Homo sapiens: one gene and its partners. The protein of the gene in region 1 interacts with the protein of each later gene in a pairwise test. Each region holds a gene or a part of one and is shown on either strand. Other genes may lie near its edges.

Evidence for each region.
Region 2: the proteins of HNRNPM (region 1) and LMO1 interact in binary tests that used the Homo sapiens proteins (3 or more experiments, as listed by UniProt).
Region 3: the proteins of HNRNPM (region 1) and MAGEA6 interact in binary tests that used the Homo sapiens proteins (3 or more experiments, as listed by UniProt).
Region 4: the proteins of HNRNPM (region 1) and AKAP9 interact in binary tests that used the Homo sapiens proteins (3 or more experiments, as listed by UniProt).

What each region holds. Positions count from the first base shown.
Region 1 is NC_000019.10:8,481,899-8,489,644, forward strand, and holds the end of HNRNPM (heterogeneous nuclear ribonucleoprotein M), read left to right. Parts: intron 1-1,259; coding exon 1,260-1,313; intron 1,314-3,704; coding exon 3,705-4,507; intron 4,508-5,125; coding exon 5,126-5,177; intron 5,178-6,792; coding exon 6,793-6,956; 3' UTR 6,957-7,216; downstream 7,217-7,746. UniProt on the Homo sapiens protein: Pre-mRNA binding protein in vivo, binds avidly to poly(G) and poly(U) RNA homopolymers in vitro. Involved in splicing.
Region 2 is NC_000011.10:8,253,210-8,261,315, reverse strand, and holds part of LMO1 (rhombotin-1), read left to right. Parts: intron 1-8,106. UniProt on the Homo sapiens protein: May be involved in gene regulation within neural lineage cells potentially by direct DNA binding or by binding to other transcription factors.
Region 3 is NC_000023.11:152,766,241-152,774,644, reverse strand, and holds the start of MAGEA6 (melanoma-associated antigen 6), read left to right. Parts: upstream 1-4,955; 5' UTR 4,956-4,991; intron 4,992-6,719; exon of another isoform or gene 6,720-6,783; 5' UTR 6,784-6,849; intron 6,850-6,929; 5' UTR 6,930-6,994; coding exon 6,995-7,939; 3' UTR 7,940-8,404. UniProt on the Homo sapiens protein: Activator of ubiquitin ligase activity of RING-type zinc finger-containing E3 ubiquitin-protein ligases that acts as a repressor of autophagy. May enhance ubiquitin ligase activity of TRIM28 and stimulate p53/TP53 ubiquitination by TRIM28.
Region 4 is NC_000007.14:91,942,996-91,951,101, forward strand, and holds part of AKAP9 (A-kinase anchor protein 9), read left to right. Parts: intron 1-8,106. UniProt on the Homo sapiens protein: Scaffolding protein that assembles several protein kinases and phosphatases on the centrosome and Golgi apparatus. Required to maintain the integrity of the Golgi apparatus. Required for microtubule nucleation at the cis-side of the Golgi apparatus.

The DNA of each region.
Region 1 (7,746 bases):
AGTTAGTTGGGATATAAGAAGCAGCTGTGTGGGGTGCAGGTGCTTTTGTTGTTGTTGTTGTTTGGTGTCTTTTTTTTTTTTTTTTTTTTTCTTAGAGACAGAGTCTCACTCTTGCCCAGGCTGGGGTGCAGTGGCACGATCTCGGCTCACTGCAACCTCTGCCTCCAGGGTTCAAGCGATTCTCCCGCCTCAGCCTCCTGAGTAACTGGGATTACAGGCACCTGCCATCATACCCGGCTAATTTTTAGTAGAGACGGGGTTTCACCATGTTGGCCAGGCTGATCCTGACCTCAGGTGATCCACCCGCCTTGGCCTCCCAAAGTGCTGGGATTACAGGCATGAGCTACTGCGCGGCCGGGGGACAGGTTTTAATGGCTTTGTGGCCGTGGTCATAAAGCGAAATGTGCCTCGTGGCTAATGTCCAAGTTGCTGAGCATATACTTTGAGACCAGAGCGGGTGGGTACAAGTGTCTTCTACATAGCAAAAGATGGACCAGAAGCTTGGAAAGGTAATGCTATGATAGCATCAGACAAACCTTAAAGAGGTGTGGGTGCACCGTGGGCAAGTGAGCAGCAGCACTGTGTTTGGGATACTTGGTGGGGGGTGCAATTTAGGTATTTTCCTGAAACCTTATCTGTTGCCTAGTCACAGCACACCCAGCTCATTTCAGGCAAGGCTGGCATGCTCAAGGATTTCCGCGCAGAGCTCATTTGTTAGCGTTGAGGTTGTCCGTGGAGCTGCAGCTTTAATTTGCTCTATGATAATGAGAGGTGCCTCTGGGTGGATAAATGTGGGCTCCAAGTGGGTGATGCTGGGCGGTCTTCTGAACAAGAAGTTGGCTGGGGTGGGGGTGGGGGCTTACTTTCCAGCTCAGGGGAGGCAAGGAAGCCTCAGTCCTGAGAGCCTGGACCAGCTTTAGAAAACTGCCGCTGAGCGAGACCCGATGGCCCTCTTCTTGCTCTGGCTCTCAGTTCATGAATGCATATGACTCCTATCTCTGCTGGGCGCATTCGCAGGTGACCCCGCACGCTGGGCCTCAGACTCTGGAGCTACGTGGGGTCTTGGCATCGTGACCCAGCATCAAGGACTCTCCTAGTTCTCTGTAAAATGATCTTGTCTGTGCGTGTGTTTCTCAAACCCCTTTCCCTTTATCTTGTCATTTTTATTAGTAGTATTTCTACTCTGGAATCTGTAATGAGCACATTTCTATTGCCATAGAGGAATTTGGCTAATTTTTTTTTCTTCCTGATTTCCTTAGAAATCCTAAGTAATGCACTGAAGAGAGGAGAGATCATTGCAAAGCAGGGAGGAGGTAGGAACCGCTTAGTTTGATGTTTTGTTTTTTTAGAACAGGCTGTTATCGCTGGGGACTGTAGAGCTTAGTGGTGAGAAGTGCGGGTTCTGACACAGACTGCCCGGGGTGGGAGCAGCTCTGCCTTTTTCTAGCTGTGTGACGTTTGGCAAGTCACTGAACCTCTCTGTTTCTCATAGCACTCATTTGTAAAATGGGGGTGTAATAGTACCTGCCTCAGGGATGCTGTGGAGAGTGAATGCATGTGAAAGAGTGCTTCCGCACGTGCTGTGCACAGGCCGACCATCTTCATTGTTAGAGTACCTCTCTTTTGGGGGTTTTGTTTTCCACATTATAAATTCCTAAAAGTAAATATATTTTCCTTAGACTTGATGATAAGACTGAAAGCACACCACCCAACAAGTAATAAATGCTTGTAAAATAGATAAATGTACTCATTAGGAAAATATGAAGAAAGTATGGTCTGAAACCCCATCGCCCAGTGATGACTGCCGGAAACATTTTGTTCTGAATCTTTCATTCATACACAGCTTTATGGATACTGAGAACAAAATGTACTTTTTGAGCATTTTTGGAGACAGTCTCGCTCTGTCTCCCAGGCTGGAGTGCCGTGGTGCAGTCTCTGCTCACTGCGGCCTCAACTTCCCAGGCCTAAGCGATTCTCCCACTTTAGCCTCCCAAGTAGCTGGGACTACAGGCGTGTGCCACCTGGTTTGGCTAATTTTTTGATTTTTTTTGTAGAGATGGCATTTTGACATGTTACCCAGGCTTATCTCAAACTCCTGGCCTCAAGTGACCTGCATACCTCCAGAGTGCTGGGATGACAGATGTGAGCCACCACACCTGGCCCAAATGTACTTTTTCAGCCTGATTTTCCCTCTGAGTATCTTGGCATCTCACCTCCTGACTTCTGTGTTGGGCTGGCTCTGGAGCTCCACGCTGGTACCATTTCCTCCCATTTCTTTTTTTTTTTTTTTTTTTGAGAGACGGAGTCTCACTCTGTCGCCCAGGCTAGAGTGCAGTGGCACGATCTCGGCTCACTGTGACCTCCGTCTCCTGGGTTCAAGCGATTCTCCTGCCTCAGCCTCCCAAGTAGCTGGGACTACGGGCGCACGCCACCATACCCAGCTAATTTTTGCAATTTTAGTAGAGATGGGGTTTCACCATGTTGGCCAGGCTGGTCGCGAACTCCTGACCTTGTTCCGCCCGCCTTGGCCTCCCAAAGTACTGGGATTACAGGCATGAGCCACCACACCCAGCTGCCCCACCTCATTTCTGATGCCTTTGGGCAAAGTGCCCATTCTCGCTAGGTTCCTTATACTGTGGGGAAGTTCTGAGACGTCTCCCCTCTGAAAGTCACACATTCTTAGAGTCGGGCCTGCTTTGGCCGCTCACTGTGTGCTGTGCAGCTAGAGAAGCAGGCGCGGTGTGGCCAGTTACAGAGCCAGTTAGAGAAACTGCCCAGTTTCCTCTTGAATTGGTATCTTTGACTAGGCTGCTTGGGTCGGTCACAGGCTGGCTCTGGGCTGATGGCCACTCTCAGAGGCAAGCGACAGGGTTTCGGGGAGGAGCCCCAAACTCGGCATGTGGAAAGGGGTGGCCTTGCTGACGGAGCCAGACCCTGCTTTCCAGAGTTGCAAGCACCACGGGTGGGGGCGTCCCTTCGTTCTGCTGACTGACCCCCAGCCGCTACCAGAGCCCACTCTGCAGTGCCATCAACATCTTCTTTCCAAAGCCAGCAAGTCATTTGGTTTCCCTGACAATAGGGTCCCCAAAAGTGGCCAGCTGTGTGCATTTGTACACAGAGGATCTCTCGGTGTGTGTTTTTTTGACCTCTGCTTGATGGTGTGGCCGAAAATCCTTTCTCTGTGCCCTGGGAGCGCTGAGGAAATGCAGCCAGAGTGGCCCCCAGCAGAGCATCCTAGAGGGACAGGCTGGGAGGGGAAGGTGGGAGTGACTCCGACTTGTCTCCACATAACTCCTGTTCATTACCCTGGGTGGCCCCCCGAGTGGGGGGTGTCCATGCCTCCCCCTGGAGCATTTCTCAGTGTCTGCTGATGGAGAAACCTCAGATGTCTCAGGAATTGACGTCCATGGTTCACAAAGCTTGTCACAGACACTAGCACCTCACAGACACACATACAGGGGTGTTCTTTAGAAGTTGTGTTATGGAAATCTCAGCTGTGGCATAGAGCAGAGAGAATGCTGGGAGGCCCCCATGTGCCCACCACACAGCTGTAGCTGTTGTCAACATTTGAGGGGTGTCTTAATGGTAAATTATGGTGGGCCTTTACCCCTGATCCATGCCCATGAGCTGAAGTGGTCTGGCGTGTTGTGCACACGCACACTCAAGTTCTTGACACCCACCTGTGTTTTGTGTCCCTGTTTCAGGTGGAGGTGGAGGAAGCGTCCCTGGGATCGAGAGGATGGGTCCTGGCATTGACCGCCTCGGGGGTGCCGGCATGGAGCGCATGGGCGCGGGCCTGGGCCACGGCATGGATCGCGTGGGCTCCGAGATCGAGCGCATGGGCCTGGTCATGGACCGCATGGGCTCCGTGGAGCGCATGGGCTCCGGCATTGAGCGCATGGGCCCGCTGGGCCTCGACCACATGGCCTCCAGCATTGAGCGCATGGGCCAGACCATGGAGCGCATTGGCTCTGGCGTGGAGCGCATGGGTGCCGGCATGGGCTTCGGCCTTGAGCGCATGGCCGCTCCCATCGACCGTGTGGGCCAGACCATTGAGCGCATGGGCTCTGGCGTGGAGCGCATGGGCCCTGCCATCGAGCGCATGGGCCTGAGCATGGAGCGCATGGTGCCCGCAGGTATGGGAGCTGGCCTGGAGCGCATGGGCCCCGTGATGGATCGCATGGCCACCGGCCTGGAGCGCATGGGCGCCAACAATCTGGAGCGGATGGGCCTGGAGCGCATGGGCGCCAACAGCCTCGAGCGCATGGGCCTGGAGCGCATGGGTGCCAACAGCCTCGAGCGCATGGGCCCTGCCATGGGCCCGGCCCTGGGCGCTGGCATTGAGCGCATGGGCCTGGCCATGGGTGGCGGTGGCGGTGCCAGCTTTGACCGTGCCATCGAGATGGAGCGTGGCAACTTCGGAGGAAGCTTCGCAGGTTCCTTTGGTGGAGCTGGAGGCCATGCTCCTGGGGTGGCCAGGAAGGCCTGCCAGATATTTGTGAGAAATGTAAGTGGCTCTTGGGGAACTTCTTGGTGGTGGTGAGCATGAGGGGACAGGGGAGGCAAAGATCAGCAGGATGAAGTCAGAGGTGGCGCCCTTCAAAGGGGACCACACCTCCTTGCCACTGTCCCAAACGTTTTATGCTAGTGGGACAAGTAAGGAATGTGAGAACTGTGGGTTCTGGAAGAGCCTGGGCTTCTCCACTGTGCTAGAATATGGAGCAGACGCTGAGCTCAGAGACTCCAGTTTCTGATTGGTTGGCTTGAAGAGGCACTATGTGTTGCACGATGGTCCAGGGAAAGAAGTGGCTGTAACGGAATTATTTTCCCCAGCTCAGCCACCCTTAGCCACTATTTAGTGACTGTGGGCTGCGCACCGCAGGCCTGAGTGTCCCATCCTGCACGGTGCTCCCACAGGCAGAGCCCCAGGGAGGGAGCTGGCTGTGCCGCTTCACAGCCTTGTCCCACATGTATCTATTAGTTTCCTGCTGATCGCCTCAGTCTGAAGGGCAGCCAGCTTCTCGGTATAGTGAGAAATCTAGCATGGCCCTCAGAGCCAGCTGCAAGGCATGCCTTAGGATTTGGTTTAATCACGCATCAGTCTCCCTTTTCTTCTCCCCTTCAGCTGCCATTCGATTTCACATGGAAGATGCTAAAGGACAAATTCAACGAGTGCGGTAAGTGTTGGGAACGGCTTTGTAGGTGCTTCCCTCGTGCTTGTTGGTGACGCAGCCGAGTCAGCAGCAAAACCTCCCTCCCAGCCCCCTCCGTCGGCTCAGGACCCATGGCCTTGCCATGTTCTGCCCACGCCAATGCTCAGGCAGGTTGTTGAGTGTCCTGTGATGTGTCACATGTTTTTCAGCTGTGTTCTCATTTCATCCTTACTTCCTTTTTTCTTTTTGAGTCTTTGAAACAAGGTAGTAGTGTCCCCATTTCACAGATGAGTCAGGCAGAGTCTTCCTTCTGAGGTTACCTGGCTTCTAGGTGGCAAGGCTAAATAAATACATCCCAGACGAGGTCGCTTTCCCCTCAGCACAGCTGGTGTGGGGCCTCGGAGAGAACACAGCCCAGCAGGTGCCATGGGGAGGCGGTGCAGGCTCTGGGCACACAGCAGCTCCTGTGAGGGTGAGGCTAAGGTCTTGTGGTTTCCTGGCACATCGGGCAACTCTTCTGGAGGGCTCTGTCTGTGGCTGAAAGCAAGTTGTCTTCCTTCCCTGCCCTCCAGGGTGAGCCCCCACCCCGCATGCACCACCTCTGTTCTTTTTAGCTAGAGGGGCCTGAGCTAGAGGTCTGGGCAGCTGCTTCCGCACTGTCCTCCCGCTTCCTGTTTCAGCAGTGGCTCCGATTTCACCACCATTGCTGCTTCTCCATGGTTCTTGGGGCAAGCCGTTGAGTCATGATCTGCCTCTTTGCTCCATTCTTCACCTCTTTCCCCACTCCTGAGTTCCCATGTTGTAGCTAGATATTCTGAAAAGGCCAGTGGGATCACAGCGCCCCCAGCCCCCACTTTTGCAATGCCTGGAGCGGCCCTGTGCCTTCAAGAGGAAGTCCAGACTCACAAGCCCCTTGAAGACCTGGTCCTATCCTCCTCCATCTCCCTCCTGTCCCAGAACCTGAGCGGCAAGTGCTGCACGTGTCCCGCAATGCTCTCGTGTGAGCCAATTACTGGCAAGTCTTCTTTCTGGTGAATTTCTGTGTAAGCTCACTCAGAACTTGCCCCTGAGGACCCCTCCACCCTACCTGCCCTGGGCCCTCTCTTAGGCACTGAGTTCCCACCTCTGGCATTGTGGCCCTACCACCTTTGGTACTCCTGGAGTAGAGCCTTTGCCCTCTAGGGCTCTGTCCACGGCGTTGACACATATCTGGATGCTTAACGGGTGCTCAAATGAATAAGTGAAACCTGCTGGCTTTCATTTGGACAGTACAGACGTGTCCATTGGATTGCGGATGGCTTTGTAACCAGGGGCGGTGGCATATCAAAAATGAAGACTTTGTAAAATGTATGGGAACTTTCTGCCTATAAAGCTGGCTTTACACTGCGCCTTCTTTTTTGAACTTCCTGAAGCGTAAAGGCGTGCATTGAATCCGCCAGGAAGGCTTTTCATGGGGCAGGGGCAGGCTCTGTTAGCAGAAGAATGGCAGTGTGGCTGAGGGGGCCGTAGTCATTGGTTCTCGCCATTGTATTCTGAGCCTTTGTGCTCTAGGCTTCAGGGCCTCTCCTTTTTGACTCTGTCCACCAAAATCTAACAAAATCGGGACTGAGTGTCGTCTCTTCTTCCCTCCCTGTCCTAGGCCACGTGCTGTACGCCGACATCAAGATGGAGAATGGGAAGTCCAAGGGGTGTGGCGTGGTTAAGTTCGAGTCGCCAGAGGTGGCCGAGAGAGCCTGCCGGATGATGAATGGCATGAAGCTGAGTGGCCGAGAGATTGACGTTCGAATTGATAGAAACGCTTAAGCAGTTGCCTTTTTTAAACATCGATACGAGACCTCTGAATTTGTATTTTTTCTTGTTAACCATTTTAATTTGTTGGCTGGATGTATAAAGATGTTTAAAAAATTCAGTTGCTTTTTGGGGTAATTTGAATTACTTTTTTAATGACTGGGGTTCCATTTGACTGTTTGCATTGAGATTGCAATGTGCGCAATTTTTTTTGTAGTTGTGGCATCTTGTTGACATCGAATATGACTTTGATAATAAATACCGGTTCCTGAAAACGGCCTGCTTGTGTGTGCTGTGTGGGCAACCACGCGAGGTGTGGGGAGCTGGGGTCACTCGAGCTTCCAGTCCAAGCAGCAGGGATCTCATCCCCTCTCTTGCTTGTCTGAGGCCCCAGGGGTGGGTGCCTGCCCACAGATGGGGGGAGACTCTTCCCTGGAAACTGCCTTCCTGTGGGCTGTAATCCCCCGGCTTACAATGGAGCGTTTGGCTGTTTAGAGCCTTCTGAGGCCAGGCGCGGTGGTTCATGGCTGTAGTCCCAGCTACTCAGGAGGCTGAGGCAGGAGAATCACTCGAACCCAGGAGGCGGAGGTTGCAGTGAGTGAGATCGCGCCACTGCACTCCAGCCTGGGCAACAGAGCAAGACTCCGTCTCAAAAAAAAAAAAAAAAAAGCCCCCCGAAAGCCATCCTGTCTCCCTGTTGTGAAGTTAACGCCCTGGGGCACAGGCCCTGCCTGAGTCAGGCTTGTTCTCTGGCTTTTTTTTTTTCCTGCTGAAACAGACCAAACTGTGTGCCACCTTCCATGCG
Region 2 (8,106 bases), on another chromosome or scaffold:
GGCAGATGTTTCTTCTGGTTTCTGCTAGATCTGTGGAAGAGAGCTCCAGATGCCCCTCCATCCCCAGCCTGTCCAGCCTAAACAATATGGTGCCCACTACCATGGAGCTGCTGGGCTCTGGGGTCCATTACAGCACAAGCACATCCACTGGTGTCCTAAGCAGCCACCTATTCTTGTCCTACCCAGCCCATAGCTGTCTTTCAAAAGCGACGTTTCTGCTCATGCATCTGCACTCCACTCCCTATTAAGAGGAGTCTGGCCTCCCATAGTTCCAGGAAACCTTGAAGATGGCATCTTCAATTGGGGGAGGGAGAAAGGTTCTGGATGCACTCATCTGCTCCTCCAAACCAACCACCTATCTTCTTCTTGAACGCTTCTGCCCTCTCAGCAGGTGGCTATCTGAACTGGGTGGCAGCATTCCCCCACCCCCCGGCTCCCCCAAAGGGTGCGTTCCCTGCATACGGCACCTTTTGTCTGGCTGCAGCAGGGACTCAGGGCTGCTATTAACCACCCCCAACGCCTTTTCTCCACCTGACAGCATCTTGTCTGGAGAGGCTGGGGCTCCTCTGGTTGAAGTCGGGTCTGCCAGCTGCCGAGGACCAAAGCTCCCGCTCTGCTGGGCTGCAGGGCTTTCATGTTGCACTTCTGAAAGATAATAAAATATCAATCGTTTTGCCGTAGCAACGGGTTTAAGAGACTTTCTGAAGTATTGAATCGTCAGAAAAAAAAAATTTTTTTTTGCTTTTAAGCACAGTGCATTATTAATAAAGTAATCCATTAGGTCGAGCAGTGAAGGGTCACCACAGAGACGGAAAGATCTGTTTTGCAAACGGTTAAACTTCGGGTTTTAAGATTAATTGCTTTCATTTGGATGCTTGCTCTTGGCCTAGCCATCTCCACTTTACTGGAACTCAGGGTCCGGGCTTTCTACATGCTGCTGGGTCTGCCTGTCAGCGAAATGGAACTGAGCTCCAACTTTCCCGGAGAAACAGCCCTTCTTCCCCTGGCACCTGCGGCTTGGGCTGGCACCAGGTGGTGAGCTTTTTGGGAGGGTTAAAATCCCAAGGGAGCAAGGAGAGCTACAGCTCTGAATGCTACCCAAGTCAAATGAGCCCCTGGGCTGTTCGAGAAGAGGCCTTTGAGTAGGAGCAGACAGCAGAGAGTCTGAGAGGGCCCAAGAACAGTGAGAGCTTTGGTCTGTGGGGGACTGGGCAGGAGAGGAGGCTGGGGCATCCAGCTGGGGATGCTGGGATGCTCTCAGGTGCACACAGGAGAAGGGCAGGGCTGGGTATAAACGGCCTTTGCAAAGGCCCAGCAGGAAGGTGGGGGTGACCACAGGAAGCAGCAGGCGGGTTGTGGAACTAAACACCAGACATGATTCCTAGGGCATTTTTAATAAGTAAAAATGCCCAAGAGAGTGAAGCTGGACTGAGGAGGACCAGACAGCGGAGTCTTCAATTGTTAATGACTGCTAGGAGCACAAATTCCACAGCCGACTCAGTTAATCCACCAGAGCCGGCGCATGGCTATGCTTGGGTACCAACCAGCCCTTGCTGGGCCACCAGTAGGATTTCCTAGGATAGACACTCATGTTCTAGACCACAGAGAATCCCAGGGGCCTCTCCTGGCAGAGTGTGCTCATGACCGTCCCAACCCTGGAGAGGGAGGCAGGCCCTGATGCTGTTCCATGCCAGAGACCCCAGCCCATCAGCAGGAAGGCGGAGCCAAGTGGACACTGCTGCCTGCTGAGGCCTGGTAAAGGCCTTGTGAGTCTGGCAGGGTGGGGACCAAATTGTGCACTTGCCCAGTGCCTAGAAGCAGGGGAGCGGGAGGGTTACCATCTGCATCTACCATGACCAGCCCCAGCGGCAGCCCTCCTTTCTGCTGGGAATGAGGCATCACATCCTGAGCTGCACATACAGCCGCTTCCCCTTCCTGCCCAAACTTAGCCAGGCAGAGTGTCTGTAAAGATGGGTAACCCGCCCCCCAACCCCACACACACACCCGAGCCTTGGGTGAAGAAGCAGGTGCTTCTCTCTGTTCCCTGCTCTTCCATTCATTTGCTCACACAGAGCAGCACTAAGGGGGGACAGGGAAACAACATAAATTGGTCTGTCGTCCGGAATCCATGTCTCGCTAATGTACCCAGATTAACTCAACTGTAAATTGTCTCCTTGGATGGCGGTGTCTTGCTAAAAGTTTCCCATATGATTCATGATTTGGATTGCTTTTAACGGCTATTGGCTAAGCAAGCCAGTGACTGTACAAGGTGATGCAATTGGCATTAGCGAGGGGAGGCACGGGAGCGTGTAATGCAGTCAATACTGCATTAACTACTGATGCCCAATTACAGGGAGCAGGAGAGAGCCTTTCAGGAGCATTAGGACTGGGGGAAGCTGAGATCACTGGCCGCTGCTCGCCTAAAAGCTTCACCCTTTGGATGCCGGGGCTCAGTGCTGGCATGACCACTCACTTGGCCTCTGTGGCTGTGGGAACTGCCTTTTTCTCTTGCTGTCTGTTTCTGAACATGTCCTCAAAGATGCCTTTAGCACATGAAAATGTATGTTTCCCTAGAGCTGGGACCCGCTTCTCATCCCTCCCGAGTAATTGATTCCTTACCCCCACCCTGTGTCACCCTGTGTCTCAGAGTCAGACCAGGCAGCTGCCCCATAAGCTTCCATTTAAGGAACTTCACAGCAGGCTCTATTTGTGGGCAGGACCAAGAGGAGGTCTATTTTGGTCTCTCAACCTTGGAACAGATGGATGATTGCCAGTGAGCACTGGCAGTTGACTCCCTGTGGTCATGGGCAAAGGAAACACGAGGTTCAGCCATGGCCCAGGGCGAAGCTGCCAGAGTTGGGAAGTGGCCATGGCTAGACGGGCTGGGCTGTCTGAGCAGAAGACAGAGCCGTGATGGTGCAGCTAGGGAAGGCTGGGGGTGAGTGCCTTGAGCCACGTTGGGGTCTAGAGCAGATGCAGGCCCAGGGAGTTAGGAGCTCCCTCCAGAGCTGTGCCCCCATATAGCAGGGAGGCCAAGGCTGTTGTTGGATCCATCTCCAGGGTCCAGAGGGCCTCCCAGAAAGCCCTGATCAGGGACATTGAGAAGATTGGAAGATGTTAGGGCAGAAGGTAGAGGTGTCCCAGTGTGCCAGGCACTGTTTGACTTGTTGCCACCTCTATCATTGCACTAAGCTATGTAGGTCCAATATGTCCACTGTGATTTTGTGTTCCATGTCCACCCAGTGTAGAGGTTGCTTTGCTTCCAAACCTTTGCCTCTCTACCTTCTCGTCTCTACAGTGAGAACAGCCATATCTAATTGGCAGGATTGTATTCAGGATTAAGTGAGGTACTGTCCATGTACACATTTGATAAGCCAGAAAGCCTCATGGCTGTGTGGAGCAACATTGCTCCATGCTCAGTTACAGTATGATCTGAAATAACTCTGTGTCCAGTCCAGTGCTTTGTTTGCTGGCAAGCACTGGGCCTGCACCCTCACTCTGCCAGTTTATTTATCATGGTCCTTAATCATTGCTGCCTGGGAGGCAGGCTGACCTCACTACTCGCCCACGTCCAGATCACCAAGACAGGTGGCACCTTGGGAAGAGGTCTCTAGGACCACTCTTTGCAAGTTCCTCCATTTATAGGGGGAAGGTTGAGGTTTAAACAGGGCAAAAGGGCTGCCTAGGGTTCCATGGGGAATTGGAGCCTAGAGCATCAGCATCTTTTTGCCATGCCTTCTGCCCTAGCCCTGAGGCGTGATGAGGCTAGGTGGTAGAAAACTCTGATTACAGCAAACATCAGCTGGACTGGGACCACGGACCACGTGCTTGGGTGTCCCAGTTATGCCCCTTGCCAGCCTACTGACAGCCCAGAAGATGCAGTTCTATCCTCAGATGTAAGGTGAAAGGTGCTGAGGGACACTCACCTGTCCTGGGCCTTTGGAAGTGGAGAAGCCCCAGAGGTTCCTATGGCATGTGTCCCATCTTGCTTGCCTGTCCTGTCTGGAGTTGGAGGACACTGAGACATGCAAGGTGTCCTCCCATTTCCAGGCTTAGCTCTTTGTGGTGCTGCTAGAGTGAGTTTTCCCAGCAGGCCCATATTTGGGATTGGACTACACCAGTGGAGTCAACTTGTCCTGGCTTGCAAGAGATTCTGTACATCTGTTCCCAACTCTGAGTTCAGAGACACTGCATTGGTAGCTTGAAGTCAGCCACAATGGGAGTATTTGTACCATGGATGTTGGCAAACACTACAAATCAGGGCATTTTCCCAAAGACTTGGTCGTTAAGCATGCATCAGCACACCACTGGATTGCATTCATCTGGGACTCTGGACCTACCCTTTTCTCCTCTGCTACCACCATTCTCATCTCACCTGCTATCTTTCTTGTGGTGCTCATTACAACCAGTCTGACCCAACCTCTGCTACCCTGGCATCCTGCCTGAGGCCTACTGCTGCTTTGACCATCACACTAAACTATGCAGGTTTAGTATGTCTGCTCTGGTTTTGGGTTCCATGAAGACTCAGCATTTGCCTCTATTCCCTTGTTCCTATGTCCTCCTTGCCTGGCATGCCCTTTCTCCTTTAGTTGGCTGAGGCTTCTCCCAGGCCATTCCAGGCCATGCTCAGAGACACATCCACCAAACCTAGCAACAAGCTTGTTCGCTACTGGTGGGAGTGTGTTCGTTTTGTGTTCTGTCCAAGGCAGGAGTTCACAGTAGCTGATACAACTGGGGGCAAATTAAAAGCAGGTGGTGTGAGAGGAGTGAGCAGATTGGTCCAGGTCGCAGAGGCAGCTGCCCAGTGTGAAGGCCCATGGGCTCAGGTCACTAGCTCCTCCCTCCTGTCCCTTCCCCTGGAGGTCAACTGGGCTTTCTTGAGTGGCCTCCTGTCTACAGGTGTAGTCCGCTAGCATGATTCAGAAAACCTGGGTTTTGTCCCAGCTGACTGCTGTGTGACTTCAGCGCACTGGGCCTCAGTTTTCTCATCCCTACAAAGGGTGAAACACCTAACTGGCACTTTATGTCCAAGCACACACTTGATAAACCAGAAAGTTTCATGCTTGTATGAATTGACATTGCTCTCTGTACAGTTACAGTATCATCTTTTGGCTTTGGCCTCTCAGTCTTTAGGAGTCATAAAACACTATAGCTATCATTATACTGAACCCGTACTTAAAAGTGCAGCATTGGCCGGGCGCGGTGGCTCACGCCTATAATCCCAGCACTTTGGGAGGCCGAGGCGGGAGGATCACGAGGTCAGGAGATTGAGACCATCCTGGCTAACACGGTGAAACCCCGTCTCTACCAAAAATACAAAAAATTAGCCGGGCGTGGTGGCGGGCGCCTGTAGTCCCAGCTACTCAGGAGGCTGAGGCAGGAGAATGGCGTGAACCCAGGAGGTGGAGCTTGCAGTGAGCCGAGATCCCGCCACTGCACTCCAGCCTGGGCGACAGAGCGAGACTCCGTCTCAAAAAAAAAAAAAAAAAAAAAAAAAGTGCGGCATTGTGCTATCTGTATGTATCAATTAGTTATTGCTGTGTAATCAGTTACCCTAAAATGTAGAGCCTTAACACAATAAGCATTTATTTAACTCAAAAATCTGTGGGTCAGTGATTTAAGCAGGGCTTGGCTGAGCAGTTTTTCTGGTCTCAGCTGGGCTCACTCACATCTGGAGGATGGAGGATGGCTGATCAGTTGGATGCTGGGCGTGACAAGACTGCATGGCCCTCATTAGCCAGAAGGCTTGTCCGACTTGTTCTTATGGCAGAGACCGGTCCGGAAGGTGTGGAAGCACAAAAGCCTTCTCTTTTTTGAGACATCTCACTCTGTTGCCCAGGCTGGAGTGCAGTGGCACAATCACAGCTTCCTGCAGCCTTGACCTCTTGGGCTCAAGTGATCCTCCCTCTTCAGTCTCCCAAGCTGAGACTATAGGTCCATATCACCATGCCTAGCTAATTTTCGTATTTTTTGTAGAGATGAGATTTCATTACGTTGCCCAGACTGGTCTTGAACTCCTGGGGTCAAGCGATCCACCTGCCTCAGCCTCCCAAAGTGCTGGGATTACAAGCTTGTGCCACTGCGCACCACCACACCCAGCCTACACAAGGCTTCTTGAGGCCAAGGTTTGGCACTGGGATCTTGTCGCTTCTGCTGCATTCTATCGGCCAAAATAAATCACAAGGCCAGCCCAAGTTCAAAGGGTGGAGAAGCAGATTCTGCTCTTGAAGGTAGGAGGTGAAAAGTCATATAACAAATGGTGTGGCTGTGGGGAAGGGTAGAGAATTGGGGCCATTTTTGTAATCAGTCCACCAAGCATCTTCCATGTATAATCTCATTTAATACCCATAAGAACCTTAGGAAGAAGCTACTATTACCCTCATTTTACAGATGAGAAAATTATTGTACAAAGAGATTGAGTAATTGGTTCCAGCTCCCACAGCTCAAGAATGCCAGGGCTGGGCTGTGAACCCAAGCAGGCTGACTGCAGAGTCAGTGCGCTCACTCTCTCTGCTCTGTCTGCTCCCTTTTCCAGCTGTCAGACGTGGGGATGGAGAGAAAGACACTCAGAGTTCAAGGAAGGGTGACGAACCTGTGAGAAGATGACTTGGGGAGGGAGGAAGGTTGCTGTGGGCAGTTTGAGTGGGGCTGCCATGGGAGCCCAGCTCCATTCCTCCCAGGGCCAGCCTCGGTGGGGAGGGACCATAATCAGGTCAGTCCCCGTTGCCTCTTTCAGGTTTTCCTCTCTGTCCTGCAAAGCCACTAGACGGCTTGAAAGGATGTGATGTTCTGTGTTCCCTGAGCTGACTTAGACCTGAGCATATATGCAGATGCAGCCAGGTGAGAATCAATTCATTGGTTGGCCCCTAGCCTCAAAATGGGGTGGTAAGTGGGCTGGTGAGAGGCCTGTGTACATTCATAAACCAGCTGATTGAAAAGCAATATTTCAGATAAATACAAGCCAGCGATCTATCAGTGGTTGTAATAAAACCCAGGCTTCAGGCTGTGATTTTATTTTGAAATAATAAGAATTGCTTGATTCTTTTTACTTGAGTTACCATGGTAATTCCGGCGTGGAGCAGTGTTATATTGATTTAGAAAGTGGACAGTAATATTTCTTTTGTGTTATTCTGTTTCTAGGCCTTGATTTCTAATTTCCACTTGGAGATTACTTTTATAAATTTCTTAAGTCCTTCCACTTTTTTTTCCTCTCACAGTATAATTTTCCTCTCATACGCCGCTATGTTCTGAGCTTATTGGTTTGCTCTTATTTTAAATTAAACTTGCTGGTTTCAAATATTGAAATGACATCTTTGTCTGTGTCTGTACTTTGGTTTAGCAAAATATTACAGTCTGACGCATTCTGCTTAATAATTTAGGGGAGGCATTCTGTCGGCCCTCACTGGGTGCTGATAACTTATGACTCAACCAACGCAGGCCTTAAACTCCTGACATTTTAATATTGTGTGGCGGGAGTGGCTGCCCCTCTTCTCTGAGTCTCGGCGGGGAAAAATTCGTGGGGTACCCCAGAAAGGAGTTTTAATAATTCAACTTTGCTGGTTGGCACGGTGACTTGATAGAGAGCAGGAGGGAGACCCACTCTTGCCAGACAAGTGGGAGCAGTGCTGGCCTGGGCTCCTACAGTCCTGCTCCATCCTGCGTGTCCTCTCCCCTCGATCTTTAAAAACCCCAATCCTGACGACAGTATCCAGGAAGGACTGTGTGGGGCTACCTGCGGGTGCCATCAGAATGTTCAAACTCTCTGATTCTCAGTTTTCCTATTTGTAAAACAAATAGGAAGTGGGCTTTGAGTCACACGGGTTCAAATCCTGCCTCTGCTGCTAAGTCATTCTGATGAGTAAATTCTAATAATAATTCCAAGTAGTAAAATGGGTATGATCACGTTTACCTTTTAGGTCTGTTGAAACTTGAACAGGCAAAGCTTCTGAGAGTCTTGTAGATGACTGGTGCCATTTCTCTGTCCTCCCTGGGGTACTGGTGAGAGCAGGGGAGACAGGGGAAGTGGATGTGCTTTGGAAAGCTTGCCCTGCTCCAGACAGGCCTGGAGTTCCCAGCTTTGGGAGGATTGCTCTTTGGAAAGGATCC
Region 3 (8,404 bases), on another chromosome or scaffold:
AGTAGCTGAAACAAAACAAATTTATTTTTTTTCACAGTTTTGAAGTATGGAAGTCCCAGATCAAGGACTGGCAGGGTTGGTTTCTGGTGACGGCCTTATTCCTGGCTTGTAGATAGCCCTTTCTCAATATATCCGTTCTTGGCCTTTCCTCTGTGCATGTGCAGAGAGAGAGAGAGAGAGAGAGCTAGTGCAGGCACACAAGTAATTTCTTCTGTCTCTTCTAACTGCTTATAACCATACTAATCCTATGGGATCAAGGCCCCACCCTTATGACCTCTTTTAATATTAATTACTTCCTTAGAGGCCTCATCTCCAAATGCAGACACCCCGGGGCTGAGGGCTTCAAAGTATGAATTTGGTGGAGGACATAAGCATTAGCAAAGAATGCACACATAGATTAATAAAACAGAATAGAGCTCAGAAATAGACCTGCACACTTATAGTCAGGTGATTCACAACAAAGGCAATAATGGTGAAAGTACAGTTTTTCCAGCAAAAGGTGCCTGAACAATTAGACATCTACAGGCAAATTATAATAACCTAGAAACATCCTTACATATTCCAGAAAAATTAACTCGATATAAATCACAGACCTAATGCAAAATGCAAAAACTATACAACCCTCTATAAGAAAACATAAGAGAAAATTCACATAACTTTGAGTTCAGTGGTGAGTTTTTAAATTCAACACCAAAAGCATGATCAATGAAAGAAAAATTTACCAAGTAGATTTTATTAAAATAAACATCATGTGCTCTTCAAAGGACAATGTTAAGAGAATGAAAACAGAAGCCACAGACTAGCAGAAAACATCGGTGGTACACATATGTGATAAAGAACATATCTCTACAACATACACGAATTCTTAAAGTTCAACGACAGAAAAAACATGAAAATAGGCAAAGATCTGAACACACTCCTCACAAAAGAAGATATACACATGGCAAATAAGCATAAAAAAGTACTGAGAATCCGTTCTCATTAGATAACTGTGTACTAAAATGAGATACCACTACACACCTATTAGAATGTCCAAAATCCATAAAAAAGCAAAAAAAAAAAAAAAAAGAAAAGAAAACCAAGATCAATTGCCAGGGAAGATGTGGAGCAACAGAAACTCTCATTCATTGCTGGTGGAAATGCAACATGGTACAGCCACTTTGGAAGACAATTTGGCGTTTTCTTAAAAAACTGAACACAGCATAAGATTCAGCAGTCATAATCAATTTACCCAATTGACGTGAAAACTTACGTCTACATAAAAATTTGTATACGATTGTATACAAAAGATTATTTCATAATCACCAAAAATAGAAGCATCCAAAATGTATTTCATTTGGTGGATGGATATATATATACACACGCACTATGGTACAACCAGACAATGATACTACTACTCCTCAATGAAAAGGAATAAGTTCTGAGCCACACAAAGTTATACATGACTCTTCAGTTCATTATGCTAGGTGAAAGAAACCAGTCTAAAAAGGCTACATAGTATGCGAGTCTATTTATATGACATTCAGGAAAAGGCAAAATTATAAAGATGAAACACCTATCAGTGGCAGCCAAGGGGGTTATCTGACAAGCACAGGGGATTTATCAGGGCAGTGAAACTAGTATGGTAATACTGTAATGGTGGATGCATGCTTGCTTTCATCTGAATATTTGTGTTCCCACAAACTTCATCTGCTGAAATACCAAGGTGATGGTATTAGGTAGAAGGTGGGGTATTTGGAGAATGACTAGTTCATGAGAGCAGAGTCCTCATGAATGGGATCAGTGTTTTTATAAAATAGACTCCACAGAGATCCCTTGCCCCTTCTTCCATGTGAGGACATAGGGGAAAGGCAACTGTCTATGAACTAGGGAGCAGGTCTCCATCAGACATGAAATCTGCCAGCACCTTGATCTTGGACTTCCCAACCTCTAGAATGTGAGAAATAAAGTTGTGTTGTTTATAAGCCACCCAGTCTACACTATTTTTGTTATGGAAGCCCAAAGGGACTAAGACAACGGCACGAGGCATTTGTCAAAACCCATAGATCTTTACAGCACAAAGAGTGAAGCTTAATGTATGTAAAGTCTAAAAGTAACTTAAGAAGTTGGAGAATCATGGGACAGAATGTAGAATGTTACACACACACACAAACCTAGCTGTATTATACATGTATGAAACCACTACAGTGAAGCAAGTGGCGGGAAAGTTACCATATTTGGGTACTCCATCAAAGAAATATGTTTTTTATAAAGTATAAGTCGGCCAGATAAGCATGTAAAATAGTTGAATATTTGATAATCATTTATATAATTTTTCAGATATGAAAACTATTGGGATTCTGTTTAATAAAACGTCCTTATCTTTTAAAAATGCATATTGAGTTATTTCGAGATGAAATGGTCTAATGCCTTAGATTCGCTCCACGTTATTCCAGAAGCTGATGTGCAGGTAGGCAAGTGTCTAACTGGAACCAGATTTGCTGTGTATTTAAAGTTGTTCATGCTGGGTATCTAGTATCCTGGGTTCATTACATTAGTTCCTATTATTCTGTATGTGTGAAGGCTTTCCCTAGTAAAACTTTTTTTATAATAAATATGCCATTAAAAGTGAAATCCTAAATGAAACTGACCACTTTGTAGAAATAAAATAAACCAGTAACCAAACTGATCCAAAAAGAAAAAGAAAACTTTAATTAAACTATAAAAACTGAAACTGTACAATGTTCAAAGCTCAAGCCACCTTCAAACATTCCAGGTTAGGCAGTATTGGAGGCCAATTCTACCAAATGATCAGGGAAAACTAACCACCATCTTATCTCATCTCTTCTAGAACATACAAAATATTTACAATTGTTCAATTCATTCTTCCAGACTAGCCCTCCTGGATTCAAAAACCAGATGAGGACCACATCCCACCCTTGATGGGAAAAAAAGCACACATTAAGTAAGCTCCCTTACATAGCAGCAAATATCCTACGTAAATTACTAGCATATTAAATAAACAGGCTCTGCCCAAGGAAATAACATACGGTTTAACATTAGGGGAAAAAAAAAAACGGTTTCATTGTAATTCCTTACATACAAAATGGAGGAGAAAAAAATTTGATTGCGTCAACGGGTACAGAAAAAGCTTTTTAAAGAAATTTAATATGAGTTCATGGTAAAAAAAAAAAAAAAAGTATTTAACCTATATTCAAAGAGAAATTGCACTTCCTAAAATCAACAGCAAACATACTTAAATGCAAAACGTTCGAATAATTATCATTCACGTCAGGAACGAGAAGTAGATGTAGGCTATTATCTCTACGATTGAAATCAGGATTGAGACACAAAGAGCTATAAGTACCAAAATGAGTAAGTGGTATGAATACTGGAAGAATATGTAATGTTTAGTGATAATACCATTATCGATCTTGAAAATTCAAAGGAAAAGGTATGTGGAATATTCAAGTGCATCGGCCTTCAGAACGAGGTGTGCAACAGATTACTACAGCAAAATCAAAATCTTCACCTCACGAAAGCAATAACTAACTACAACAATTAATAGACAATATGCCATTTGCAATAGCAACAAAATTCATGAATTGCCTGAAAAGAAGTCTAATAAAAATGTATAAGGTCTTTATAGAGACAACTGTCGAAGTATACTGACATATTCAGGTAAAAAAAACCTTGAAATACATAGAGGAGTATAATATATTCATTCATGGGGAGCACAACACTGTAAAAATGTAAACTCAGCTTAAATTATTTACAATTTAGTGCCTTACCTGTAGCCGCCGCCATTACAACAAATTTGGGCTGCTGTGCTCTGCTTCCCAAATCAAACCTGGAAAATTACAGAATGGAAACAGTAAATAAAAAACCAGTATCAGCAACAAAACAGGGAAAGCCCAGGGTGAGACTCAAGGCTGTGTTGAGCTGGTACTTGTGTTTGACACTTGCAGTGTTGGTTGGAGGGGGTTAGCAGCAGGGATGTTGGGGAGGTTTGTAGCCGGCCTACACGGTAGATGACAGAATGGGTAGAATAAAAGTTTGAAATTTTCCACTTCACTTCTTTGCACAATCTGAGGCAGCCTCTGAAAACACGATGCCAAGAGCCCTAGGTAATAGCAGGACACCAGGAAAATTTGGTTGGTTAAGGCAGTATGACTCCAGAGTTCTGCTAATAACAACCTGAAACCACCATAGTGGGAGAGGAATTACATTTTTTAAAAAAAAAAATTCTTTCAACAGAACACAAAGACTGAAATAGGAGGTCACTACAACCGCGGGAGCTGCCGCCCCGCCCTGCAGGGAGCACCTGGCCTGGGACCCGCAGGCATTCTCTACAAGGGGTGCAGCTGTGCAAATGCTCACAGGTGACAGAAACAGAGCATCTCCTGCCCATCACTTCATCCAACAGCCAGAGGTGACGAAAACGACCCTCCTGAGTGAGGACTGAGGGTCCACACCGCCCCCCCACCCCACACACCATAGAGGGACCACAGAATCCAGCTCAGCCCCTCTTGTCAGCCCTGGTAAACGCAGGCAGTGATGTCACCCAGACCACACCCCTTCCCCCAATGCCACTTCAGGGGGACTCAGAGTCAGAGACTTGGTCTGAGGGGAGCAGAAGCAATCTGCAGAGGATGGCGGTCCAGGCTCAGCCAGGCATCAACTTCAGGACCCTGAGGGATGACCGAAGGCCCCGCCCACCCACCCCCAACTCCCCCGACCCCACCAGGATCTACAGCCTCAGGACCCCCGTCCCAATCCTTACCCCTTGCCCCATCACCATCTTCATGCTTACCTCCACCCCCATCCGATCCCCATCCAGGCAGAATCCAGTTCCACCCCTGCCCGGAACCCAGGGTAGTACCGTTGCCAGGATGTGACGCCACTGACTTGCGCATTGGAGGTCAGAAGACCGCGAGATTCTCGCCCTGAGCAACGAGCGACGGCCTGACGTCGGCGGAGGGAAGCCGGCCCAGGCTCGGTGAGGAGGCAAGGTAAGACGCTGAGGGAGGACTGAGGCGGGCCTCACCTCAGACAGAGGGCCTCAAATAATCCAGTGCTGCCTCTGCTGCCGGGCCTGGGCCACCCCGCAGGGGAAGACTTCCAGGCTGGGTCGCCACTACCTCACCCCGCCGACCCCCGCCGCTTTAGCCACGGGGAACTCTGGGGACAGAGCTTAATGTGGCCAGGGCAGGGCTGGTTAGAAGAGGTCAGGGCCCACGCTGTGGCAGGAATCAAGGTCAGGACCCCGAGAGGGAACTGAGGGCAGCCTAACCACCACCCTCACCACCATTCCCGTCCCCCAACACCAACCCCACCCCCATCCCCCATTCCCCATTCCCATCCCCACCCCCACCCCTATCCTGGCAGAATCCGGGCTTTGCCCCTGGTATCAAGTCACGGAAGCTCCGGGAATGGCGGCCAGGCACGTGAGTCCTGAGGTTCACATCTACGGCTAAGGGAGGGAAGGGGTTCGGTATCGCGAGTATGGCCGTTGGGAGGCAGCGAAAGGGCCCAGGCCCTCCTGGAAGACAGTGGAGTCCTGAGGGGACCCAGCATGCCAGGACAGGGGGCCCACTGTACCCCTGTCTCAAACCGAGGCACCTTTTCATTCGGCTACGGGAATCCTAGGGATGCAGACCCACTTCAGCAGGGGGTTGGGGCCCAGCCCTGCGAGGAGTCATGGGGAGGAAGAAGAGGGAGGACTGAGGGGACCTTGGAGTCCAGATCAGTGGCAACCTTGGGCTGGGGGATGCTGGGCACAGTGGCCAAATGTGCTCTGTGCTCATTGCGCCTTCAGGGTGACCAGAGAGTTGAGGGCTGTGGTCTGAAGAGTGGGACTTCAGGTCAGCAGAGGGAGGAATCCCAGGATCTGCAGGGCCCAAGGTGTACCCCCAAGGGGCCCCTATGTGGTGGACAGATGCAGTGGTCCTAGGATCTGCCAAGCATCCAGGTGAAGAGACTGAGGGAGGATTGAGGGTACCCCTGGGACAGAATGCGGACTGGGGGCCCCATAAAAATCTGCCCTGCTCCTGCTGTTACCTCAGAGAGCCTGGGCAGGGCTGTCAGCTGAGGTCCCTCCATTATCCTAGGATCACTGATGTCAGGGAAGGGGAAGCCTTGGTCTGAGGGGACTGCACTCAGGGCAGTAGAGGGAGGCTCTCAGACCCTACTAGGAGTGGAGGTGAGGACCAAGCAGTCTCCTCACCCAGGGTACATGGACTTCAATAAATTTGGACATCTCTCGTTGTCCTTTCCGGGAGGACCTGGGAATGTATGGCCAGATGTGGGTCCCCTCATGTTTTTCTGTACCATATCAGGTATGTGAGTTCTTGACATGAGAGATTCTCAGGCCAGCAGAAGGGAGGGATTAGGTCCTATAAGGAGAAAGGTGAGGGCCCTGAGTGAGCACAGAGGGGATCCTCCACCCCAGTAGAGTGGGGACCTCACAGAGTCTGGCCAACCCTCCTGACAGTTCTGGGAATCCGTGGCTGCGTTTGCTGTCTGCACATTGGGGGCCCGTGGATTCCTCTCCCAGGAATCAGGAGCTCCAGGAACAAGGCAGTGAGGACTTGGTCTGAGGCAGTGTCCTCAGGTCACAGAGTAGAGGGGGCTCAGATAGTGCCAACGGTGAAGGTTTGCCTTGGATTCAAACCAAGGGCCCCACCTGCCCCAGAACACATGGACTCCAGAGCGCCTGGCCTCACCCTCAATACTTTCAGTCCTGCAGCCTCAGCATGTGCTGGCCGGATGTACCCTGAGGTGCCCTCTCACTTCCTCCTTCAGGTTCTGAGGGGACAGGCTGACGTGGAGGAACAGAGGCCCCCGGAGGAGCACTGAAGGAGAAGATCTGTAAGTAAGCCTTTGTTAGAGCCTCCAAGGTTCCATTCAGTACTCAGCTGAGGTCTCTCACATGCTCCCTCTCTCCCCAGGCCAGTGGGTCTCCATTGCCCAGCTCCTGCCCACACTCCCGCCTGTTGCCCTGACCAGAGTCATCATGCCTCTTGAGCAGAGGAGTCAGCACTGCAAGCCTGAAGAAGGCCTTGAGGCCCGAGGAGAGGCCCTGGGCCTGGTGGGTGCGCAGGCTCCTGCTACTGAGGAGCAGGAGGCTGCCTCCTCCTCTTCTACTCTAGTTGAAGTCACCCTGGGGGAGGTGCCTGCTGCCGAGTCACCAGATCCTCCCCAGAGTCCTCAGGGAGCCTCCAGCCTCCCCACTACCATGAACTACCCTCTCTGGAGCCAATCCTATGAGGACTCCAGCAACCAAGAAGAGGAGGGGCCAAGCACCTTCCCTGACCTGGAGTCTGAGTTCCAAGCAGCACTCAGTAGGAAGGTGGCCAAGTTGGTTCATTTTCTGCTCCTCAAGTATCGAGCCAGGGAGCCGGTCACAAAGGCAGAAATGCTGGGGAGTGTCGTCGGAAATTGGCAGTACTTCTTTCCTGTGATCTTCAGCAAAGCTTCCGATTCCTTGCAGCTGGTCTTTGGCATCGAGCTGATGGAAGTGGACCCCATCGGCCACGTGTACATCTTTGCCACCTGCCTGGGCCTCTCCTACGATGGCCTGCTGGGTGACAATCAGATCATGCCCAAGACAGGCTTCCTGATAATCATCCTGGCCATAATCGCAAAAGAGGGCGACTGTGCCCCTGAGGAGAAAATCTGGGAGGAGCTGAGTGTGTTAGAGGTGTTTGAGGGGAGGGAAGACAGTATCTTCGGGGATCCCAAGAAGCTGCTCACCCAATATTTCGTGCAGGAAAACTACCTGGAGTACCGGCAGGTCCCCGGCAGTGATCCTGCATGCTATGAGTTCCTGTGGGGTCCAAGGGCCCTCATTGAAACCAGCTATGTGAAAGTCCTGCACCATATGGTAAAGATCAGTGGAGGACCTCGCATTTCCTACCCACTCCTGCATGAGTGGGCTTTGAGAGAGGGGGAAGAGTGAGTCTGAGCACGAGTTGCAGCCAGGGCCAGTGGGAGGGGGTTTGGGCCAGTGCACCTTCCGGGGCCCCATCCCTTAGTTTCCACTGCCTCCTGTGACGTGAGGCCCATTCTTCACTCTTTGAAGCGAGCAGTCAGCATTCTTAGTAGTGGGTTTCTGTTCTGTTGGATGACTTTGAGATTATTCTTTGTTTCCTGTTGGAGTTGTTCAAATGTTCCTTTTAACGGATGGTTGAATGAGCGTCAGCATCCAGGTTTATGAATGACAGTAGTCACACATAGTGCTGTTTATATAGTTTAGGAGTAAGAGTCTTGTTTTTTATTCAGATTGGGAAATCCATTCCATTTTGTGAATTGTGACATAATAATAGCAGTGGTAAAAGTATTTGCTTAAAATTGTGAGCGAATTAGCAATAACATACATGAGATAACTCAAGAAATCAAAAGATAGTTGATTCTTGCCTTGTAC
Region 4 (8,106 bases), on another chromosome or scaffold:
AACCTGGGCAACATAGTGAGACTCTACAAAAAATTAAATAAAAAAAAAAAATAGCAGGGCATGGTGGTGTGCGCCTGTATGTAGTCCTAGCTACTCAGGAGTCTGAGGTGGGAGGATCACTTGAGCCCAGGAGTTCGAGGCTGCAGTGAGCTATCATCATGCTACTGCACTCCAGCCTGGGCAACAGAATGAGATCCTGTTTCAGAAAACAAACAAACAAAAAAAAACCCCTGGAAATAACTTTTAAAGACAACACGAAGGGAATCATTTTCTAAGTTATATAAATATGATGGAATATTTTAAAGCCATTAAGATTATGAAGACTGATAGGAATATGAAAAATAGTGTGAAAAGGGCATTATCAAAAATAGTATGTACATTATTTCATTTGTATAAACGTGTGCTTTCAGATTAGAACTGAAAAACTCTGGATTATAATTTTATTCAGCAAACGTATATTGAATCCCTATTTTATACCTAGAGGTGGTGACAGTGTCTGCTCTCAAGTTGCTCACTGTTTAGTGGGAGAGACAGACTCTGGGTGATAAGTACAAAGAGGGATGAGCTGCAGTAGGATTTGGGGGATATTCTTCCACGTTTTGTTAAAGTGTTTTAAATACTACTATGTCATTTTATAGAATTACTAAGAAAGCTTTACTATTGATATTAATGCACCATAATATAATGCCTTTCAAATAGTTATTCATACATATTTGCTTAATGAATGAACAGAATGATTAATGAGTCATTAATAAGTGTTACTTTCCTAGCACGGTTGTAATTTAATAACATTAATCTAGAATTCTCTTAATGTGAAATCCATATTGCTGGCATCAGAAACAACTTTAAATGATCATTTTCCAAAGTTTATCTGAGACTTCATTCTGCAAATGTCTCATTTGTTCACTGGACTTAAGTATTGTATTTGATAATCTAGTTTTGCAAACCACAACTTACAAATCTTTTTGGGGGTAATTTATTGATAAACAGTTCCATTGGAAAATTCCCTTTCTGTATCTAAACCTTATAAATGATCACTTTTTAAACAGTTTGTCATGTATGCAGTATAATATATAGTATACTGTATAAAATGTTTTATACTACCCCAAATCTGTAATAATGGGTTAATAAATTATGATATGTAAAATAATTCTACAAAGACTTTTTGAGTGTGGAAAATGCCCACAAATAATGCCAGGTTAAAAAGAAAAAAGTTACCAGGAAAAGGTATATGTACATATTTAAATATGAAGACACCTGAAAAAAAGCACCAAGATGTAAATCGTGGCTATCTCTGGGTGGTGGCTTATAGGCAATTTTAATTTTCTTTATACTTTTAGTATTTTCCAAATTCTTGATACAATGTATCTCTTTTATGACCAGAAAAGAATATTCAAATGCCATTTTTTTTTTTTTTGAGACAGCCTGTCTCCCAGGCTGGAGTGCAGTGGCAGGATCTTGGCTCACTGCAGCCTCCACCTCCCAGGTTCAAGCGATTCTCCTGCCTCAGCCTCCCAAGTAGCTGGGATTACAGGCATTTACCACCACGCCTGGCTAATTTTTGTATTTTTAGTAGAGATGGGGTTTCACCATGTTGGCCAGGCTGGTCTCGAACTCCTGCCGTTAAGTGATCTGCCTGCCTCGACCTCCCAAAGTGCTGGGATTACAGGCATGAGCCACTGCACTCAGCCTCAAATGCCATTTTTTAAAAAACATAAAGGCTTATCAAATACATTATATTAAACACATGTTATAGTGTATGACCATTATCCAGAACAGGAAAATGAGGCACAGAATAACTAGGTTTCCTATTTTAGCGTAGGCCTGGAATTGTAATTGCTATTTCAGTGCAGAGTGTATAATATAGTTGGGATTATATTGTTAGACATTTTATAGATTTCCTTTCTGTTTTTGTTGTGCTTATTCTTTCCTTGCTGTTAGTTCGTATTGCTATGGGCATGCTCTTACTCCTCATCTGCCTCTTTTCCTAATTTGCTGTTTTAGATTTGCTACGACTAAGGAACCCAGAACTGAGGTTGACAGAATACTATGTAAAAAGAAAAAACAACAACAACAAAGACCTTAGGCGGGGTGTGATGGCTCACTCCTGTAATCCCAACACTGGGAGGCTGAGGTGGGAGGATCGCTTGAGCCCAGAGGTTCTAGATCAGCCTGGGCAATGTAGTGAGACCCCATCTCTAAAAAGAAAAAAGTATAAAAAACAAAACAGGTGGGGCGCAGTGGCTCACACCTGTAATCCAAGCACTTTAGGAGGTTGAGGTGGGTGGATCATCTGAGGTCAGGAGTTTGAGACCAGCCTGGCCAACATGGCAAAACCCCGTCTCTACTAAAAAATACAAAAAAATTAGCCAGGCGTGGTGGCAGGTACTAATCCCAGCTACTGGGGAGGTGGAGGCAGGAGAATCACTTGAACCCAGGAGGTGGAGGTTGCAGTGAACCGAGGTTGTGCCACTGTACTCCAGCCTGGGTGACAGAGCAAGACTCTGTCTCAAAAAACAAAACAAAACAAAAACAGAGGCCAGTGTAGCCTGCCCAGTGGGCTTTAGGGCAGTTTAGTTTTTCTGCTGCTTGTTGGTTGTTTTGGTTTACTGTTGGGTCCTCAGCTATTTCCTCAGTATTGATGTTGCAAGAAGCATGACCCTGGGAGATGTGAGACATTACTGCATTATGTATTAAGTAAATATTTTCAGAGCTGGGCTAGCTCCCTCTGCAGTGTTTTGACGAGGATGGCACTACATAGGTTGTCCTTGTGTTGAACCAAACTATTTTAACTCCATTTTAAATGACTTCATTTTTTTCCAAGTATAATTATTCATGGCACGTAAAGGAAGTATTGTAATTTAAGTGAACAGAATTAAATAGAGGACAGTTGTATATTTAATATAAAATTATTACTCATGTAAATTTGCATTAGGTATACTTTTTAAAGTTATTCAGTATTTTATATAATGGGCATTATTTGCTGAATAATTATAAAAAACTACTGTCTATTATATTCAGTAATTTGTAATTACATGACTTTTGTTTAACAAACATTTTCAGTGTGAAGAGTAGTTCCAATTGTGTACAAAAAAAAGGATGGTGCTCCATGCAAGCTGTATATTGATTATTGATAGCAGGACTTTTCAGTTACTGTTTCCACTGTGATAGACAAAGCTGGTTATGGTGTAAAACTGTTCTTTGCATATTTCAGATACTTTGTTCCACAGCTAAGAAAGTGTTTTCCCTTCCTGTTTTAAGCATTCTAGTTTTTCATACTTAGATGTGGCAGAGCTTACTTAGCATTCCGAGTAGATGCAGCAGTTTGATAGCTTCATCAACATTTATTGCAGCAATAGTGCAGTGCCTGTGACTTAAAACTAATTCATAACCTTCAGGCTTTTTTTTTTTTTGAGACGAGATCTCGCTGTGTTGTCCAGGCTGGAGTGGCAGCCTGCCTTGACCTCCTGAGCTCAAGTGATCCTCCTGCCTCAACCTCCTGAGCACCTGGGACTACAGATGTGCACCACCACACCTGGCTAATTGTTAAAATTTTTTTGTAGAGATGGGATTTCACCATGTTGCCCAGGCTGGTCTTGAACTCCTGGGCTCAAGCAATCCTCCTGCCTTAACCTCCCAAAGTGCCGAGATTATAGGGGTGACCCACTGCACCCAGCTTAGGCTTTGTCGGAATGAAGCAAAACATGGTGTTTAGAGAGAGAATGTGGAGGAAGGAACGTGATGCCCTGTCAGTGAAACTGAAAGTTGAATGATAGCTCATGGAAAGAGGAAGTGAAAAAGGTAGGATACATCCAAGTGATTGAAATATGACAAGAATGGAACAAAAATTTTTTCAAACAAAAACATCTCTTATTTTATAAATAAAAAGGTTCATAGTAAAAGCTAAACTATGTCTACAAAATATCTATTATAGGCTACTGAATATTGAAATGTAAATGAATTTCTTCTAATATAGCTAGAAAAGGTTATGGTAAATTGCTAAACAATAAGGGACATTATTTATATTCATTTCTTAGTAAGATTCCACTAAAATTAAGATTAGTCACTTTATGTAATTGCTTAACATCCATTTAAAAACTATAATTTGGAAAAGCTACGGAATTTTTCAAAACTTATTTATAAAAGTGGTTTGGTGTCTGGGGTGTGTGTGTGTGTGTGCGTGTGTGTGTGTGTGTGTGTGCTGGAGAGAGGGAGAAAGAGAATTTATAATACTGCTATCTGGTCTGGTAGAAATGGCACTAGGACTTTGGAGACATTTATGTGTTCATTTGTTCAACCAACATTTTTGAATGCCTACGACTGCAGCTATGAACTTTTACTTAGCAAGCATTTTTTTTTCCCCCCGAGATGGAGTCTCACTCTGTCACCCAGGCTGGAGTGCAGTGGCACGATCTCGGCTCACTGCAACCTCCACCTCCTGGGTTCTAGCTATTCTCCTGCCTCAGCCTCCCGAGTAGCTGGGACTACAGGCGCCCACCACCACACCCGGCTAGGTTTTTATTTTTAGTAGAGACAGGGTTTCACCATATTGGCCAGGCTGGTCTCAAACTCCTGACCTTGTGATCCGTCCACCTTGGCCTCCCAAAGTGCTGGGATTACAGGCGTGAGCAACCGCGCCCGGCCGCAAACATTTATTTAAATGATCACAAATTCTGTGCCTTATTGTCTGTTGGAATAATCTTATGATGTGTACCTCAACAGGTGTTTTGAAGGATAAATGAAATAATGGTTGGGAGCTTTTTGAGTTCTCTAGGTGCTAGATATAAAGAAGCTATAATTTTTTTTAATTGAGGTGAAATTCATAAGCAAAATTAACCATCTTTAAGTGAACTTAACACAGTGGCTTAACACAATCTTATGCAACTACTGCTTCTGTCTACTTCCCAAACATCTTTCCATCTCAAAATATAACCCTGTGCCCATTAAGCAGATATTCTTCATTGCTTCTTCCCTCTAGCCACTAACAATCACCAACGCACTCTCTGGATTTACCAGTTGTAGATATTTAATATGAAAGGAATCATATAATATGTGACCCTTTGTGTCTGGCTTCTTTCACTTAGTATGTTTTCAAGGTTCATCCATTTTGCTGCATATATCAGTACTTCATTCCTTTTTATGGCTGAATAATATTCCATTGTATGTATATACCATAATTTGTCCAATGATAGGCATTTGGGTTGTTTCTGTCTTTTGGCTATTGTGAATAGTGCTGCTGTGAACATTTGTATGGATGTATTTGAGTACCTGTTTTCATTTCTCTTGGGTATATACCTAGTAGTAGAACTGAGCAAGGTCATATGGTAGTTATATTTCAACTTTTTGAGGAACTGCCAAACTGTTTCCATAGTGACTGTACCATTTTACCTTCCCATCAGCAATGTATAGGACATTCCAATTTTCCCATAACCTCATTAACAGTTGTGTTTTCTGTTTTTTTTGTTTGTTTGTTTTGTTTTTTTGTTTTTTTAATACTCATCCTTGTGGGTATTAAGTGGTTTCTAATTGTGGTTTTGGTTTGTATTTTCCTAATGAATAATGATATTGAGTATCATCTTTTAATGCACTTTTTGGCCACTTGTAGATTTCTTTTTTTTTTTTTTTTTTTTTTTGAGATGGAGTTTTGCTCTTGTCTCCCAGGCTTGAGTGCAATGGCGCAACCTCAGCTCACTGCAACCTCCACCTCCTGGGTTCAAGTGATTCTCCTGCCTCAGCCTCCCTAGTAGATGGGATTACAGGCATCCACCACCATGCCCGATTAATTTTTTTGTATTTTTAGCAGAGATGGGGTTTCACCATGTTGGCCAGGCTGGTCTTGAACTCCTGACCTCAGGTGATCTGCCCGCCTCAGCCTCCCCAGTAGCTGTGATTACAGGCATCCACCACCATGCCCGATTAATTTTTTTGTATTTTTAGCAGAAATGGGATTTCACCATGTTGGCCAGGCTGGTCTTGAACTCCTGACCTCAGGTGATCTGCCCACCTCGGCCTCCCAAAGTGCTGGGATTACAGGCCTGAGCCACTGCGCCTAGCCCATTTGTAGATCTTCTTTAGAGAAATGTCTATTAATATCCCTTGCCCATTTTTTAATTGGGTTGTTACCAACTTCTTTTATCTAATATTAATTATATATGTATATAAAATATATATATATCCTTTCCGTATGTGTGGAGAGAGAGAGAACGTGTGCACTCAAGCACCAGAGAGGAATGGGTAGAAATACGTATCCCCAGTGGGATTATCTTCCATATATATATATTTTTAGGCTTTTTGGGCTTTGCCAAAATTTAAATTGTTGCTTCCTTTGAGTGATAGGTTCTTGGTGAGTTGATAACAGCATGATGCTGAAGCTTGATTTCTTTGTTGGCCAGTGAGTCATTCCATTCCATGAGCAGCTGTTTTACAAGTGCATGCAGTTGGTTAAAGGGGCACCTGTTGGATTTTTGGCTTGATCATTGCCAGTCCATTTACACTGTGAGAAAAAAGTAACTTAGTGTTCAAAAATGAAAAGACCTGTCATTTTAAACATGGGGGATCTGTAGCTACTTCACTAGTATGAGATGTCTTTGTTGTCATATTGACACCCCTTTTATTTTTTGTCTTAGTCATCACCAAACTGTAACTTACAACACTTAGTGCCCTTCTAGGTACATTGCATAAAGCTTTGGTTGATTTTTGCATGGGTTTAACAGTATTCAAAAGTGTTCAATATTCAGAGTATTCAAAAATTTAACATTATTTCAGGAGTAGTTTTGCTTAGGTTCTTTGTTTAAATTTATAGATTCTTTTGTAATATGTAAAATTCCTTTTTCCTCCTTGTTCACTAACAATGTAGTGTTTGTTTTCAGTTACCATCAGAGTTAAGATTCTTATTGTGGTTTACTGTTCTCTGAGATTTTTGTGTGGTGTGAAAGTTTCTCTGTAAAAGTCTAAGAGTTTTTCCCCCTTTTAAGAAATAATTTCTTAAAGCCCCCAAGATTATTGTTTTGATGATTCAGAACTATAATCAACTTTACTATACAAAGTCCTAATCTGTAAAGATTGATTTCATAGGTTCTCTGATTTACAGATCTCTGAAAAACTAATAGGGTATAAAATCTAGGCTCTCTCTCCTATTAGTACTGAACACACTATAAAATTCCTTGTTGTTTACTAGGATTGCTCATTGTGGGCTCTGTGGTTAGGCTGTATTTATTCCTCCAGGGTCTCACTTTTTTTTTTTTTTTTTTTTGAGACAGAGTCTTGCTCTGTCACCCAGGCTGGAGTGCAGTGGCACTATCTCGGCTCAGTGCAAGCTCTGCCTCCCGGGTTCACGCCATTCTCCTGCCTCAGCCTCCCCAGCAGCTGGGACCACAGGTGCACGCTGCCAAGCCCGGCTAATTTTTCTGTATTTTTAGTAGAGACGGGGTTTCACTGTGTTAGCCAGTATGGTCTCAATCTCCTGACCTCATGATCCGCCTGCCTCGGCCTCCCAAAGTGCTGGGATTACAGGCGTGAGCCACAACGTCCAGGCTAGGGTCTCACTTTTATTCAAGTTAGTATTGCCTTATTAGTTGTTTCCCCAGAGAAGATAGTGACAGGGATCAATTATAACTAAAATAGTAGTTCTCCATATGTATCATGAATCAAATTTTGTGTGTGGAGACCTTGTGGGGATTGCAGTGGGCATGGGGCAGAGATCTCAGTTAATTCTTACGCCGTTTATATCCTCTACTCCATTTCTTGAGAGCCAAATAAATTAGTAGATCTTCTTCTAAATGGCAAGATATTAGAAAATATGTTAAAACTGCATTAGGAAATATCTACTAGGAGTTTATATATGAAATAATGAGTTTTGGCTGAAAGTTACAGAAACTCTTTTCTATTCATATACAACTTAAAAATACTGGAAATTCTTTTGGTGTGAAATTTTTTATATTTGCCAAAATAATATTTAATTTTAATTTGTATAAATTCATTTCACAATGAAAATTCATATCTGAGCATTTCTAATGACTCAACAAGAGAACTCTCACTTTTCCACTTTAAACAACCATTAGTAATTTTTATAATAAAGTTTGAGAAAAAGAAAAGATAATTTGAGGT